Linked DNA regions of Homo sapiens: region 2 is linked to region 1. Evidence: fine-mapped expression QTL. Tissue or cell type: whole blood. Region 1 holds a variant in brackets; the other region holds the start of a gene. All regions are shown on one strand. Distances are between the middles of the regions.

Evidence for each region. PIP is the estimated chance that this variant, and not a neighbour inherited with it, causes the effect.
Region 2: IL34 starts here. The variant in region 1 is fine-mapped to the expression of IL34 in whole blood (TOPMed, PIP above 0.99).

What each region holds. Positions count from the first base shown.
Region 1 is chr16:70,609,675-70,617,844 of GRCh38, forward strand. It overlaps a transcript of IL34 not described here. Among named protein-coding and RNA genes, the nearest start is that of IL34, 33 kb to the right of the region's middle. The variant A/G (reference allele first, on the strand shown) is at 4,964.
Region 2 is chr16:70,642,286-70,650,454 of GRCh38, forward strand. It overlaps IL34 (interleukin 34), which reads left to right and starts at 4,274. Exons shown (of 6, transcript NM_001393494.1): 1 at 4,274-4,690. The coding sequence starts at 4,663. RefSeq lists an enhancer at 7,506-8,006.

The DNA.
Region 1 (8,170 bases):
AGGTGTATGGCTGCTCTGAGGGGTAGGGATTTATCCTGCCTTGGTTTCAATTTGCAGAGGCCTGTTCCTGAGTGAGTGATATTACCCATGAGGCCAGTGCTTTCAGCAACCCCATGAGGCTGGCATGGTCACTGTGCCTCTTGCAGGTGCCAGTGGGGAGAGAGAAACTCAGATCTATAGCTAGAATTGGAACCCAGATGCCTCTGGATGTTTTGAGAGGTTTGCACCATTTAAAATGTGAATGTCAGGCTGGACGTGGTGGCTCATGCCTGTAATCCCAGCACTTTGGGAGGCCAAGGCAGGTGGATCACCTGAGGTCTGGAGTTTGAGACCAGCCTGGCCAACACGGCGAAACCGTCTCTACTAAAAATACAAAAATTAGCCAGGTGTGGTGGCGGGCGCCTGTAATCCCAGCCACTCTGGAGGCTGAGGCAGGAGAATCACTTGAACCTGGGAGGTGGAGGTTGCAGTGAGCCAAGATTGCGCCACTCCACTCCAGCCTGGGCGAAAGAGCGAGACTCTATCTCAGAAAAAAAAAAAAAAAAGTGAACGTTTTTCCAAGGTAGGAGCTGAGAGAGGGATCTGGGAGAGGAGGGAGGAATCAAAGGGCCAAGAAAACTCTTGGTGGATTCTCTCCTTCATCCCCATCCTAGTCTTGTGCCTGTTTTCCTCCAGCGTCTGGGAGTGCCGAGTGTTCAGTTGACCCAGTTCTCCTTCTCTGCTGGAATTTTGGCATCTGGCCCATGTGTCCAGTTCATTCACTCAGCTATGATTTGCCAGAAGTTATAGAGTTTCCTATGTGTCAAGCAGGTGCCAGGCCCTGAGGACACAATGATGACACCAGAACCAGGCTCTGTCCCCAGACCCTGTGGTCATTCCTGTGGGGAGAACGACACACAACACACAACTGAATGCAGTTAGGATAATGTCGAGTGGCCAGTGCTGTGTGGAAAGTGCCGCAGAGGGAGTGACAGGGGTGGCCTGGTGGCCAGAGAAGGCATCTCTACGGAGGTGATGTTTGAGCTGACAAGAAGAAACCAGCTGGGGAGAAATCTCTTGTGGAATATTCCAGGAAGAGATAAGGCAAAGTCCTCAGGGAGTAGCCGTCGGTGCGGGACAGTGGGTGAAGCTAGGGTGAGGAGGAAGGAGGGGCCCCCTCAAGCCTGCCGGGAAGCCACGGAGAGCAGTTAGGGTTGATTCTGAGGGCAGATTCCAAGATTCTTCTGGAAATGAAAAAACTGCTTGCGTTCTTTCCCCCCCTTCCATCCTTTGTGATTTTGGGGGCTTCTTCTTTCTTTCTTCTTTTTGTTGTTGTTTGAGACAGGGTCTTGCTCTGTGGCCCAGGCCGGAGCACAGTGGCCTGGCACAATCTCAGCTCACTGCAACCTCCATGTCCCTGGTTCAGGCAGTCCTCCCGCCTCAGCCTCCTGAGTAGCCGAGACTACAGGTGCGCACCACCACGCCTGTCTAATTTTTCTGTTTTTAGTAGAGATGGGTTTCTCCATGTTGCCCAGGCTGGTCTCGAACTCCTGTGCTCAGGGGCTTTGTATTTTGAAACACATGTGAGAGGCTCTTGGAACTGGAAGGAAGGGTTGGTGCCCCCAGATTGCCTGAACTCGCTCTTGTATCCACTTCCTAGTTGCTGTGAAGGGGGAGGGGCTGCCAGGTACGGCAGATTTGTGTCCTTCTCCCCGCCACCTTGCTGGAGATACCTGGGAGTTTATACCATTCTACACCTGCAGGGGGGCCACTGACTGAATTAGGGGTGCAAAAGCCTGACCTCTTTGCCTCAAATAGAACAACACTGTGGTGCTATTTAAAAACAGCCTTCGGGCTGGGTGCAGTGGCTCACACCTGTAATCCCAGCTCTTTGGGAGGCTGAGGCAGGTGGATCGCTTGAGCTCAGGGGTTTGAGACTAGCCTGGGGCAACATGGTAAGACCCCATATCTACACAAAATTTAAAAAAGTTACCAGCCTGACCAACATGGTGAAACCCCGTTTCTACTAAAAATACAAAAATTAGCTGGGCATGGTGGCAGGCACCTGTAATCCCAGCTACTCCGGAGGCTGAGACAGGAGAATCGCTGGAACCCAAGAGGCAGAGGTTGCAGTGAGCCGAGATCACACCACTGCACTGCAGCCTGGGTGACAGAGCAAGACTCTGTCTTAAATAAATAAATAAATAAATAAATAGCTGGATGTGGTGACAAACACCTGTGGTCCCAGCTCTTCGGGAGGAGCAGGAGGATTGCTTGAGATTGGAGGATTGCCTGAGCCCAGGAGGTCAAGGATGCAGTGAGCCATGATTGCACCTCTGCACTCCAGCCTGGGCAATACAGTGAGACCCTGTGTAAAAATAAAAGATAGCCTTCTGTCTTGAGGTTCCCTCCCTTCATTAATCATGTGAAGCCCAAAGCCTGTCTCAGGCTCTGCTTCCAGGAGAGCCAGCCTCCAACAGGCCGATAGGGGCTGTGTGTTCTGTAGTCTAGAAATCGGGGTTCTGGGATCATGGAACCAGCTGACCCCTGGGGGCTTTTCCTTCCAGCTTTAAGAGTCTCTAAAGCTGTGTGATTTCCTCAAGTCACATAGCAAGTTATTGGCAGAGCCAGGCCCACAAACTACTCACAGCCTGAAAGCACTGGGGGCTGGGGGCTGGGGGCTAGGGGGATCTGCTGGTGAATGGTGAGTATGGTGCAGAGGCCAAGGCCCAAGCTGGAATACGGTGCAGAGGCCAAGGCCCAAGCTGTGGTTCATCCAAGGCTGTGCTCCCAGATGAAGCTCTGGATCTCAGGTAAGGCCCACTCTGCCGTAATTACTCCAGAGACTTTAGTTTCCTGAATTCTGCTCCCTTTACCTCTGTATTAGAATGATTCACACTAAAGTGTGAAAGATTGTCAGCTCAGAACCCTCCCAGAAGCAATGCATCCTGAAAAGAAAGTGCTTGTTAACCCACATCAATCTCTAATTGAAGGGACTTTTTGACAGGTATAAAGTGAGTTGGAAAAACGCACACAGTGTAAATCTGGAGCCTTTGGGGCTCAGGAGGGATTCCTCAGCTTCCCCAAGATCAGCTTCCCCACCCCCATTTCTGCTTCTCCCAATTAGAACACATGTTTTTTGTTTGTTTTGAGACAGAGTCTCACTCTATTGCCCAGGGTGGAGTCCAGTGGTACAATCTCAACTCACTGCAACCTCTGCCTCCCCGGTTAAAGCGATTCTCCTGCCTCAGCCTCCCAAGTAGCTGGGATCACCACGCCCAGCTAATTTTTATATGTTTAGTAGAGGCGGGGCTTCACTGTGTTGGCCAGGCTGGTCTCGAACTCCTGACCTCAAATGATCTGCCTGCCTTGGCCTCCCAAAGTGCTGGGATTACAGGCCTGAGCCACTGTGCCCGGCCTCAGACCACATCTGTTGAGAAATGCATGTCGTCTTCTTCAGGTTCCCACAGCAGGGCCGGTCGAAGGGGTGTCACTGGAAGTGAAGGTGACGCAACTGAAAAAATAATTTTGTGAGAAGTGTATTTTTGCAGAGGCTGGTGGTTTGAACTAATCTCCCTGGTAAGTGGTTTATTTCTCCGGAGAGTGAAGGACTGTGCATGATTTAGTAAATTTCCATGCCATGTTCTGAAGGGCTGGCATCCCTTCTTGGCTCAGGCAGGCTTGTAGCGTAGACTGGGGACATGGGGTTGGAGCGGGGCGGTTTCCTGAGGCATGGCGGCCACACTGGATGGGGCCTCACCTGGTCTCCACCCTTACTGTACAAGTGCCCTTGGCAAGTCACTTACCTTTTCCAAGGCGCAGTTTCCTCATCTGTGAAACAACTGGAGTTGGCTATTCCGGAACCTTGGTACTCAAAGTGTGGTCTGCAGACCAGTGGTATCTGCAGCACCTGGGAGCTTGTCAGAAATGCAGAGTCCAGCCAGGAGTGGTGGCTCACACCTGTAATCCCAACACTTTGGGAGGCTGCGGTGGGTGGATCACCAGAGGTCAGGAGCTCAAAACCAGCCTGGCCAGCACAGTGAAACCCTATCTCTACTAAAAATACAAAAATTAGCCAGGCATGGTGGCGTGCACCTGTAGTCCCAGCTACTTGGGAAGCTGAGGCAGGAGGATTGCTTGATCCTGGGAGGTGGAGGTTGCAGTGAGCTGAGGTTGCGCCACTGTACTCCAGCCTGGGTGACAGAGTGAGACTCTGTCTCAGGAAAAAAAAAAAGAAAGAAATGCAGAGTCCAGCCAGGCACGGTGGCTCACCCCTGTAATCCCAGTGCTCTGGGAGGCTGAGGCAGGAGGATTGCTTGAGGCCAGGAGTTTGAGACCAGCCTGGGCAATACAACAAGGCTTTGTCTCTTAAAAAAAAAAATTATCCAGGCGTGGTGGTGCACGCCTGTAGCCCCAGCTACTCAGGAGGCTGAGGTGGGAGGACTGCTTGAACCCAGGAGTCTGAGGCTGTTGTGAGCTGTGATCATGCCCCTGCACTCCAGCCTGGGCAATGGAGCAAAACCCTGTCTCAAAAAAAAAAAAAAAGAAGTGCAGTATCCCAGGCCCTACCCCAGACTTTCTGAGTGAGTCTATATTTTAACAAGATTCCAGGTAATGTGTCTGTATGGCACAGTTTGAGGAACCCTTCTTTGGAGCAGACTCCTCAAATGTGGTCCTTGCACCACCCCATCAGTGTCATCCGAGAGACAAAGCATGCTGGAAATGCAAGTTCATGGGCCCCTGACCTACTGAATTGTATGTCTGAGGGAGGGGCCTGGAGCCTGTGTTTTTTAACAGCCTCTCCAGGTGGTTCTTAAGCCCGCTGAGGTTTGAGAAGCATGGAAGCTCAGATTCAACAGTGATGGGAGCCGAGGTTTAGCTGTGGTGCAGCTGCTGAACACGGAACCTGTTTTGTTTTTGTGCTGCTTTCAGAAATGTGCACACACTTGCCTTTCACAGCAATTTCATGATGTTGTTTGTCCTT[A/G]TCTTTGCTCTGCCTAAGAGATAACTGGGTTTTAAGGGAAGTTATGTGAATTGCCTACACTCTTTGTGTCTCACAGTGTCTTGCAATAGCAATATTCACATAAAGCATTTCTGGCAAGTGTCAGTGAGCTGTTACAGGTGATAAAACTTCTTGTAAATATTTGTTCCTTGATTATAAATGACAGAGGCTCTGTTGGAACAGGAGCTGGGGTAGATCTTGTAGGTCTTGCCCAAGGCTCAGGAGCTGATGAACTGCAACTCCTCTGTTTTACTGCTTAGTATTTTGATTAGAGAATAAACTCATACGGTTTCAACATCATGTAAAATAGAACTATAGCAAAGAGTTTTCTTCCTGCTCCTGTCCCATAACCGGCCTCACCGGGTAACTGTTTATATTTTATTGGGTCTAATCTAATTAGAGCTGATCCTCAGGAAAACAGAAACTCCTGATCTATGGCTCCCCTGTTACCCCCCAAATCTCTGGACTTACGGTGTATGCATTTTTGCAACTTATTTTACTACCCTGACAAAAAGTCCATCGAATTCTAGACTTATTTGGGTTAACAAACATCTTCTTTTAAAGATACACTGGCCAGGTGTGGTGGCTCACGCCTGTAATCCCAGCACTTTGGGAGGCCGAGGTGGGTGGATCAAGAGGTCAAGAGATCGAAACCATTCTGGCTAACATGGTGAAACCCCGTCTCTACTAAAAGTACAAAAATTAGCTGGGCGTGGTGGTGCTCACCTGTAGTCCCAGCTACTCAGGAGGTTGAGGCAGGAGAATTGCTTGAACCTGGGAGGTGGAGGTTGCAGTAAGCCGAGATTGCGCCACTGCACTCCAGCCTGGCAACAGAGCAAGACTCCGTCTCAAAATAAATAAATAAATAAATAAATAAAATAAAGATACACTGTCTCTGAAAGGTGTCTGAGTTGCCAATCTTTCACGCTTTAGTGTGAATTATTCTAATATGTTCACTTTATGCAAATGCAAGCATATACAAATATATAGATATAGATATAGGTAGATGAAAGTGCCAGGCGCAGTGGCACGTGCCTGTAATCTCAGCACTTTGGGAGTCTGAGGTGGGGCAAATCACTTGAGCTTAGGAGTTTGAAACCAGCCTGGGCAACACAGTGAAATCCCATCTCTACCAAAAATACAAAAAATTAGCTGAGTGTGGTGGTGCACACCCGTGGTCTCAGCTACTCGGAAGACTGAGGTGGGAGGATCTCTTGAGCCCAGGCAGTGGAGGTTGTGGCAAGCTGAGATGGCACCACTGCACTCCAGCGTGGGTGACAGATTGAGATCCTGTCTCAATAAAAAAATCCGTCCCCCCTCAAACTCCTTCCACAGATATTTATAGATAAAAGCTTTGCCACCTCTGCTGAACACAGCTTCCAACATAGAAAACACACCATTCAGTGTCTTGCTTGTTTTACTGAATCTATCATGCTATACTACTGTGTGGTGAACATGCAGGTTATACCATCTGCTATCACAGACGCTGATGAGATGAAAAATCTCATACACGTGGCCTGTTGCAGGTGCATACTGTATATGCAGGATAAATTCCCAGAAACGGCATTGCTAAGTATCTGCATTTGTGATTTGAGAGATATTGCCAATTTCCACTCCATAAGGTTAATACCAATTTGCACTTCCATCAGCTTTGGATGAAAAATTAGTTTGCCCGCATCATTGCCAACACATTAAATTGGATTTATATCATTGGATTTTTACCAATCTGATAGGTGAAAAACAGTGACTCAATGTAGTCTTAATTTAAATTTGTTATGAAAAAATTTTAATTTATAATGTGTTTAAGGCCTATGTATTTTTCTATGACCGTCTTACTCATATTGTTTTGCTTATTTTATTTATTTATTTTTTTGTGAGCAACATGTCTGTTTATTTCACCTGGGTGCAGGCGGGCTGAGTCCGAAAAGAGAGTCAGCAAAGCGTGCTGGATTATCATTAGTTCTTATAGGTTTTGGGATAGGCGGTGAAGTTAAGAGCAATGTTTTGCGGGCAGGGGTGGATCTCACACAGTACATTCTCAAGGGTGGGGAGAATTACAAACAACCTGCTTAAGGGTGGGGGAGATTACAAAGTACATTGATCAGTTAGGTGGGGCAGGAACAAATCACAATGGTGGAATGTCATCAGTTAAGGCTATTTTTACTTCTTTTGTGGATCTTCAGTTACTTCAGGCCATCTGGATGTATACGTGCAAGTCACAGGGGATGCGATGGCTTGGCTTGGGCTCAGAGGCCTGACATTCCTGCCGCCTTATATTAATAAGAAAAATCAAAATAGTGTTGAAGTCCTGGGGCGGCGAAAATTTTTGGGGGGTGGTATGGAGAGAGAGTGGGCGATGTTTCTCAGGGTTGCTTCAAGCAGGATTAGGGGTGGCGTGGGAACCTAGAGTGGGAGAGATTAAGCTGAAGGAAGATTTTGTGGTAAGGGGTGATATTGTGGGGTTGTTAGAAGAAACATTTGTTGTGTAGAATTATTGGTGATGGCCTGGATATGATTTTGTATGAATTGAAAAACTAAATGGAATAAGAGAAGGAGAAAAACCGGTATAAAAGGTCTAAGAATTGGGAAGACCTAGGACATCTGATTAGAGAGTGCCTAAGGAGATTCAGTATAGTCCTGCCAGCAAAGATTATTTATTTACTTCAAGAGTTAAGAGTGGCAGTTTGGGGATAGCACGAGGAGATATCAGCTGTGATGGCTTGGAGAAACTGTGTAAACCGGCAGTGTAAACAAGAGCAGGGCATGTATGAGTAGTTGAGAACGGAGAATAGGAGTATGACTAGACAGAAGATAGTAGGGATGACAAGTTTTTTTGGGGCACAGTCTAAGTTGGTCTGGTGTCTGGAATGAGACTGGGGCCTAATAAAAAGGAGCGTCTATACAGGAGCTTAAATGGGCTGTACCCCCTGTAGCATTCCGAAGACAGGCCTGAATTCTGAGAAGGGAAAGTGGTAAAAGTATTGTCCAGTCCTTTTTAAGTTGGTGGCTGAGCTTGGTGAGGTGTGTTTTTAAAAGACCTTTAGTCCATTCTACTTTTCTTGAAGACGGAGGACCGTAAGGGATATAAAGGTTTCACTGAATACTAAGAGCCTGAAAAACTGCTTGGCTGATTTGACTAATAAAGGCTCGTCTGTTATCAGACTGTATAGAGGTGGGAAGGCTAAACTG
Region 2 (8,169 bases), 33 kb after region 1:
TCTGATGTCTTTTTTTTTTTTTTTTTTTTTGAGACGGAGTCTCACTCTGTTACCCAGGCTGGAGTGCAGTGGCATGATCTCGGCTCACTGCAAACTTTGCCCTCTGAGTTCAAGCGATTCTCCTGCCTCAGCCTCCTGAGTAGCTGGGATTACAGGCACCTGCCACTGCGCCCGCCTAATTTTTGTATTTTTAGTGGAGACGGTGTTTCACCATGTTGGTCAGGCTTGTCTTGAACTCCTTACCTTGTGATCCTCCCGCCTTGGGCTCCCAAAGTGCTGGGATTACAGGCGTGAGCCACTGAGCCCGGCCTGATTTCTTTTCTTATAAAGGCATTATCCCACCATAAGGACCCCATCCTTGTGACCTCATCCAAACCTAATTATCTCCCAAGGCCTCATCTCCAGGAACCACCACATTAGGGGTTACAACTTCAACACATGTATTTTGGAGAGACACAAACATTCAGTTCATAACATGCTACAAAATGAATGAACCCTGAAAACATGCTAAGTGAAAGAAGCCAGACATGAAAGGTCCCGTATTGCATAATCAATCCCATTTATATGAAATGTCCAGAATAGGCAAATCCATAGAGACAGAAAGAATATTAGTGGCTGCCAGGGGCTGGGAGGAAGAGGGAATAGGGGGTGACTGCTAATGAGTTCAGAGTTTATTTTGGGGGTGATGAAAATGTTCTGTAATTAAATAATGGTGACTGTTGCACAACTTAGTACACTAAAAACCCACAAAGTTGTACACTTTATTATTTATTTTTATTTATTTTTATTTATTTTTGAGACGGATCTCACTCTGTCACCCAGGCTGGAGTGCAGTGGGACTACCTCGGCTCACTGCAACCTCTGCCTCCCGGGTTCAAGTGATTCTCCTGCCTCAGCCTCCTGAGTAGCTGGGATTACAGGTGCGCACCACCGTGCCTGGCTAATCTTTTGTATGTTTAGTAGAGATAGGGTTTTGCCATATTGGCCAGGCTGGTCTCGAATCCCTGACCTCAGGTGATCCACCTGCCTTGGCCTCCCAAACTGCAGGGATGACAGGAGTGAGCCACTGCACCTGGCTGTTGCACACTTTATTTATTTATTTTGAGACAGGGTCTTGCTTTGTCACCCATGCTGGAGTGCAGTGGCGTGATCATGGTTCACTGCAGCCTTGACCTCCCTGGCTCAAGTGATCCTCCCATCTCAGCCTCCCAAGTAGCTGGGACCACAGGCCCGTGCCACTACACCCACCTAATTAAAAAAATTTTTGTTGGTAGATACGGGTTCTCACTATGTTGCCCGGGCTGGTCTCAAAGCCCTGGGCTGAAGCGATCCCCCGGCCTTGGCCTCCCAAGGTGCTGGGATTACAAGTGTGAGCCATCACACGCAGCCTGTACACTTTAAAATGGTAAATTTTATGGCATGCAAATTATATATTGATTTTTAAAAAGAAAAAAGACTTAAGATGCACATCAGAGATTTAAAAAATAACCAGGGAAAATTGAACGTGGATTCTATATGAAATCATATTAAAGAGTTATTAATTTGAGGGTTGTGTGATGACAATATTGTGATTATATATTTTAAAAATCCCTACATGCTGGTGAAATGGCATGTTTGAGATTTGCTTTAAAATATTCCTGGAAAAAAAAATTGGGGGATGAGTGAAGCTGGAATGACAGAAGAGTGATCATTTTTTTCTTTTGTTTTGAGACAGAATCTCGCTCTGTTGCCCCGACTGGAGGGCAGTGGAGCAATCTTGGCTCACTGCAACCTCCGCCTCCTGGGTTCCAGTGATTCTGCTGCCTCAGCCTCCTGAGTAGCTGGGATTACAGGCATGCACCACCACACCTGGCTAATTTTTGTATTTTTAGTAGAGACAGGGTTTCACCATGTTGGCCAGGCTGGTCTCAAAGTCCTGACCTTTTATGGACAACTCTGTGGAAATAACTTTTTTGTTTTTCTATTGGTATTTGAAGTTGTTTTTTCCCCTTCTCCTTGGAGTTTATTCTGCCTCAACTGATTCACCCGCCTCGGCCTCCCAAAGTGCTGGGATTACAGGTGTGAGACACTGCACCCAGCCAGATTGACAATTTTTGAATCTGAGTAACTGCTATATGGGGGTCTGTTATACTATTCTACCTTGTTTCAGTTTGTTTAGACAACTTCCACTATAAAGGAATGAATTTTTTGGGTAGATGGAAATGTTTTGTATCTTGATTATTATAGTAATTACACAGCTCTATAAATGTGCTAAAAACTTTTAGAAATGTATACTGAAAAGGGTAAAATGTAGTATATGTAAATTAGCCCTCAATAAACCTGAAAAAAATCCCCAAACTAATGACAACTAAATGTTCTAGATACGTTAGTGTTTGTAGTGATGCTGTAACAGCAGGGGAATTGCCAGGGTGAGGAGGAGGAGGAGGGGGAGGAGGAGGGGGAGGGGGAAGAGGAAGAGGAGGAGGGAGGAGGGAGGAAAAGGAGGAGGGAGGAGGGAGGAAAAGGAGGAGGGAGGAGGAATGAAAAGGAGGAAGGGAGGAGGAAGGAGGAAGAGGAAGGAGGGAAGAGGAGGAAGAGGAGGAAGTAGGAAGAGGAAGGAGGTGGAAGAGGAAGGAGGAAGAGGAGGGAGGAGAAGGAGGAGGAAGGAGGAAGAGGAGGAAGGAGGAAGAGGAGGAGGAAGGAGGAAGAGAAAGGGAGTAGGAGGAAGGAGGAAGAAGAGGAAGAGGAGGAAGGAGGAGAAGGAAAAAGGAAGGAGGACGAGGAAGGAGGAAGAGAAGGAAGGAGAAAGGAAGAGGGAAGAGTAGGAAGGAGGAGGGGGAAAGAGGAGGAAGAAGAGGGAGGAAGGAGGAAGACGAGGAAGGAGGAGGAGGAAGAGAAGGAGGAAGAGGAAGGAGGAAAAGGAGGAAGGACAAGGAAAAGAGGAGCAGCAGCAGGCAGCGACTGGGGCTGAGATTCAGGGTGACTGCATAAGGGATTAACTTGAACAACCCGTGTTCTCTCTATAAGGCCCTGCCTGCCTGCTGGGCACCTCTTAGGGTAAGGGCCAGCATTCTTTGGTGACACCATGGATCACACAATGAAGAAGATGCCCAAGTCATACCTGCTCTCCCCCGATGGTGTCACTCTGTAGCCATTTTCCCCCACCAGAGGGGAGACAGGGAGGAGGCGAGGGGATGGAAGAGAACTAAATCAGAGACGGAATTCCAGCCTGATCTGCAGAGCAGACACAATGGTCCAGACCTTGCAGAGTCCAGAGGGGCAGATGGGAGGACCACGCACACACGCTGAGCCCTGTGTGGTTGTCGAATTTTGGGAGCAGCCACCAGCCCACAGGGTTTGAATTCCTGTCACACTTCTTACAAGCCGTATGACCTTGGACAAGTGTCTTAACCTTTCTGGGCCTCAGTTTCCTCATTGATAAACTGAGATTTTGCACTTCCATGAGATTGTTGTGAGAGATTCAGTGAATGTAAAGACCTTAGTCCTGGCCGGGTGCGGTGGCTCACGCCTGTAATCCCAGCACTTTGGGAGGCCAAGACAGCAGATCACTTGAGTCCAGGAGTTTGAGACTAGCCTGGCCAACATGGTGAAACCCCATCTCTACTAAAAATACAAAAATTAGCCAGGCATGGTAGTGCACATCTGTAATCCCAGCTACTTGGGAGGCTGAAGCAGGAGAATTGCTTGAACCCTGGAGGTGGAGGCTGCAGTGAGCCAAAATCACGCCACTGCACTACAGCCTGGATGACAGAGTCTGAGACTCCGTCTCAAAAAAATTTTTTTTTTCTTAATTTTTTTTTTATTAATAGAACTGAGGTCTTACTATGCTGACCAGGCTGGTCTCGAACTCCTGGGCTCACGCAATCCTCCCACCTTGGCCTCCCAAAGTGCTGGGATTACAAGCATGAGCCATTGCGTCCGGCTTGTTTTCGGAGTGGGAGCTCGTCTGCTTTTTTAACCTGTCCTTTAGCCTGAGTCATTCATGGACTCTACCATGGCTCTCGATGTGTGAACTCAAACCACCTGTTCATTCCTTGGTCCTGCTTTTGTTCAGGCCCCAGGCTGCCAGCTGGTGTCATCATAACTCACTCATGGGCCAGGGCCGTTCGGACATCCTGAAGTCATTTCTCACGTGAGCCGTGTCCAGCTGCCAGGGCCGGGTGGTCCTGTGCAGGCCGTGGGTGCGGTGTGCGCTGTGGCTGATGGCTGAGTGGCAGCGCTGCTCTTACATAATCAGTTTCTCTCCTCCTTTCTCTTCCTAGAGCCAGATTTCACACTGAGCAGCTGCAGTCGGAGAAATCAGAGAAAGCGTCACCCAGCCCCAGATTCCGAGGGGCCTGCCAGGGACTCTCTCCTCCTGCTCCTTGGAAAGGAAGACCCCGAAAGACCCCCAAGCCACCGGCTCAGACCTGCTTCTGGGCTGCCATGGGACTTGCGGCCACCGCCCCCCGGCTGTCCTCCACGCTGCCGGGCAGATAAGGGCAGCTGCTGCCCTTGGGGCACCTGCTCACTCCCGCAGCCCAGCCACTCCTCCAGGGCCAGCCCTTCCCTGACTGAGTGACCACCTCTGCTGCCCCGAGGCCATGTAGGCCGTGCTTAGGCCTCTGTGGACACACTGCTGGGGACGGCGCCTGAGCTCTCAGGGGGACGAGGAACACCACCATGCCCCGGGGCTTCACCTGGCTGCGCTGTGAGTACTGGGGGGTCCCTAGGGACCTGCATTGGGAGGCCTTGGCCTAGATCCAGGATCTGCCGTAACCATAGCAACCAGGGCATTCTTGCTGGTGAGAAGTTGCGATGCTTCCCAGCCGGACTGCAGACACCCTCTGAGATTCCCACGGCCGCCGTCTGCCCTGTCTGCCGCTCACTTCGGGCTCCGACGGGCAAGCTGGGTGGGCAGTTCTGGCTGGGTGGGCATGGTCCTCAGGGTGGTCTTAGGTCGGGGCAGGCACTGGGGGTAGGTGGCAGCATCTCACCTTTCCAGGCTTGTGGGTGTTGGGGAGCCCCGGGCGGGCAGCAGCGGCCCAGTCCTGGGTATGGCCGGTGGAGGGGGGCAGGGGCTGGTGAAAGTGTCTAGGGACCCAAGACCCACGGCAGAAGAGCAGCCAGATGCCTGGAGAAGGCAGCCTGTTCCCCTCCAACCCTCCCTCCATAACAGAACAGAATTAAAAAGCAGAAAGATAACACTGTTGGTAAAAAGAAAAATAAGTTGAAATGAGGACAGAAAGGAAAAAAAGGATCTGGAAGCCTCTTATGCCTGCTGGCTGGGAGGCCAGACCAAGATCCCCTCAGTCTCCAAGATCCAGTTCAATTGACTCAAATTCAACACATTTTTCCGGTGCCTCCCACGTGCCCACTGCAGAGTCACTGCCATGACAACAAGGACCTTGCTGTCTCGTGCCTCTGTCTCCAACGCCTGGCACAGGGTTGAGTGCTCAGGAACTGTTGGAGGTTTGGGGTATGAGCCTGCGAGGGATTGAAAGAAGAGTTGGGTCCACCCTGGCCCTTGTGGAAATATACAACAAAGGGTTGGGACATTAAGGATGGGTGGAAGGACCCAGCTGGACCCAATGTTCTGGAAACCCCTAGGTCATGAGAAGCAGGGGTGCAGCATGGGGGAGGGGCTACTGGAAATGGTCTAGAAGGTGGGGTGGTGGTCACACAGGTAGACCTGGGGTCATGAGGCCCATGTTCCAGGAAGAGGGGCCAGTGTGAGCAAAGGTTTGGCGGTGGGATGGTGAGGCCAGGCTGGGAGCTGGTTTGGACCCGGCTGGCTGAGGCCTTGAGAGCCAAGCAAAGTGTGCCTCCCTCCCCATAGCAGGCAGCCCTGGAGGATTTGAGAGCCCGGCGGGGGTGGAATCGTGATTGGGAGTTCCTCTGCTCTTGAAGATCAGTCTGGTGGTGTTTGTAGGAGTTACTGCTGTCACCGTCTGTGCAGGAGGGAATGAGGGTCATTCTGGAGGTGGAGGTGCGAATGAAAGGCAAGGGATGCTGGGCTGGTGGCTCACGCCCGTGATCCCAGCACTGTGGGAGGCCAAGGCAGGAGGACGGCTTGAGGCCAGGAGTTTGAAACCAGGCTGGGCAGCATAGCGAGACTCCATCTCTAAAAAAAGGAAAATTAGCCAGGTGTGGTGGCATACATCTGTAATCCCAGCTACTCAGGAGGCTGAGGTGGGAGGATCACTTGAGCCCAGGAGGTTGAGGCTGCAGTAGCAAGGATCGCATCACTGCACTGCAGCCTGGGCAACAGGGTGAGACCCTGTCTTTAAAAAAAAAAAAAAAAAAAAAAAGGAGAAAAGAAAAAGAGAGAAAGAAAAGCAAGGGAGAGGGGAAAAAGCTCCAGGAGGGGTGGGTCTTAGGACCAGGCAAAGACTGGCTGGGGGATGAGGGAGAGGGAGAGCAGCAGATTGAGGTGGGGGCTGGTGCCCAGGGGCTGGGGTGCTGAGGAAGTTGGGCTGCCATAACCAATTAGAAAGCTTCGGGTGGCTTAGAGCAACAGGAATGTGTCGTCTCACAGTTCTGGAGACCGGAAGTGTGAGATCAGGGTGCCTGCAGGGCTGCGTTCCCTCTAAAGGTGCCGAGAAGGAGCCTCCCTTGCCTCTTCCAGCTCCTGGTGGCTCCTGGCTTCCTTGGCTTGTGGCCTAGTCACTCAGATCTCCCTTTGTCTTTGCGTGGCCTTTCCCTTTGTGTGTCTCTATGTCCTCTCCTCTTCTTCCTAGGACACTAGTCACTGGATTTAGGGAACTGCCTAAATCCAGGATGGCCTAATCTTGACATCCTTCATTTAATAATGCCTGTAAGTGGCACAGGACAGGCGAGCCCCCAAGGGGGCTTAGCCTGCGAGGGTTCTTGGCTTTCCCTAGGAGAGAATTCAAGGCAAGCTGGTGGTAGAAGAAAACAGCTTTACTGAAGAGATGTTATAGCTCTGTGCCAGCTCCTGCAGAGCAGGGCTGTGCCAGAGGAAGCGTACTGAGGAGCAGCTCGGGGCCTTTTGCAGTCATATTTATACCCACCTTTAATTGCATGCAGATTAAGGGGCAGTTTATGCAGACATTTCTAGGGAAGGGGTAGTAACTTTTGGGACATTGGGTCATTGCTATGGAAAGCGGTGGTAACTCCCAGGCGTTGCCATGGCAATGGTAAACTGACATGGCACACTGCTGAGCATGTCTTTTGGAATGCTGCTTCTGCCCCGTCCACCCCTGTTTTCACTAGTCCTCAGTTTGGTCCAGTGTCAGGGCTCTGCCTCTGGAGTCGGTCCTACCTCCTACTTCACAAAGACCCCATTTCCAAACAAGGTCACACTCGGGTTCGGGTGAATGTGGATTTGGAGGAGATGCTATTTAACCCACTGCACAGGTTCAGATTTGGTCCCCGGGGCTGGGGGTGACAAGCCTCACTTGTCACTGCACATAGGGTCAACCCAGGGCCAGGGAACCAGGAAGGGAGTACCGTACTCACACAGATCTTTCTTAAGCCTCCTCTCTGTCTTGCAGGTTGTTTTATTATTTTATTTTTATTTTTATTTTTTGAGACGGAGTCTCACTCTGTCACCCAGGCTGGAGTGCTGCGGCACGATCTCAGCTCACTGCATCCTCTGCCTCTTGGGTTCAGATGATTCTTGTGTCTCAGCCTCCCGAGTAGCTGGGACTACAGGCACCTGCCACTGCGCCTGGCTAATTTTTGTATTTTTAGTAGCGATGGGGTTTCACCATGTTGGCCAGACTGGTCTTGAACTCCTGACCTCAGGTGATCCGCCCACCTCGGCCTTCCAAAGTGCTGGGATTACAGGTGTGAGCCTCCGTGCCCAGCCTGTGTTGTGGGTTCTTACCTCTGGGCTAAGACAAGGGCAGGGTGGGTCTCCTGACCAAGGTCAGGGGTGGCACTGGCTGTGGGGTTCCTGGTGTGCAGAGCATGTGGGGGACAGTGGCCTTGAGGTTGGGGCTGTGCTGTCCCTGCCTGGTCCCTGTTTGTTAACCTGTTTCTCTGGGTGGGTGGAGGCAGCAAAAAAAGAAACTTGCCCTTAGCAATGATGTTTGGGCTGCACTCAGAGGAAGGCTGCCCAGTTGGGGGAGAGGCAGATCATCTGTGGACAGGGTTTCCAGGGCAGCTGTGTGCCCACCGTGTCAGGCTGGGAGGCTCAGTGTCACTCCAAGGCACAGTCCCTGC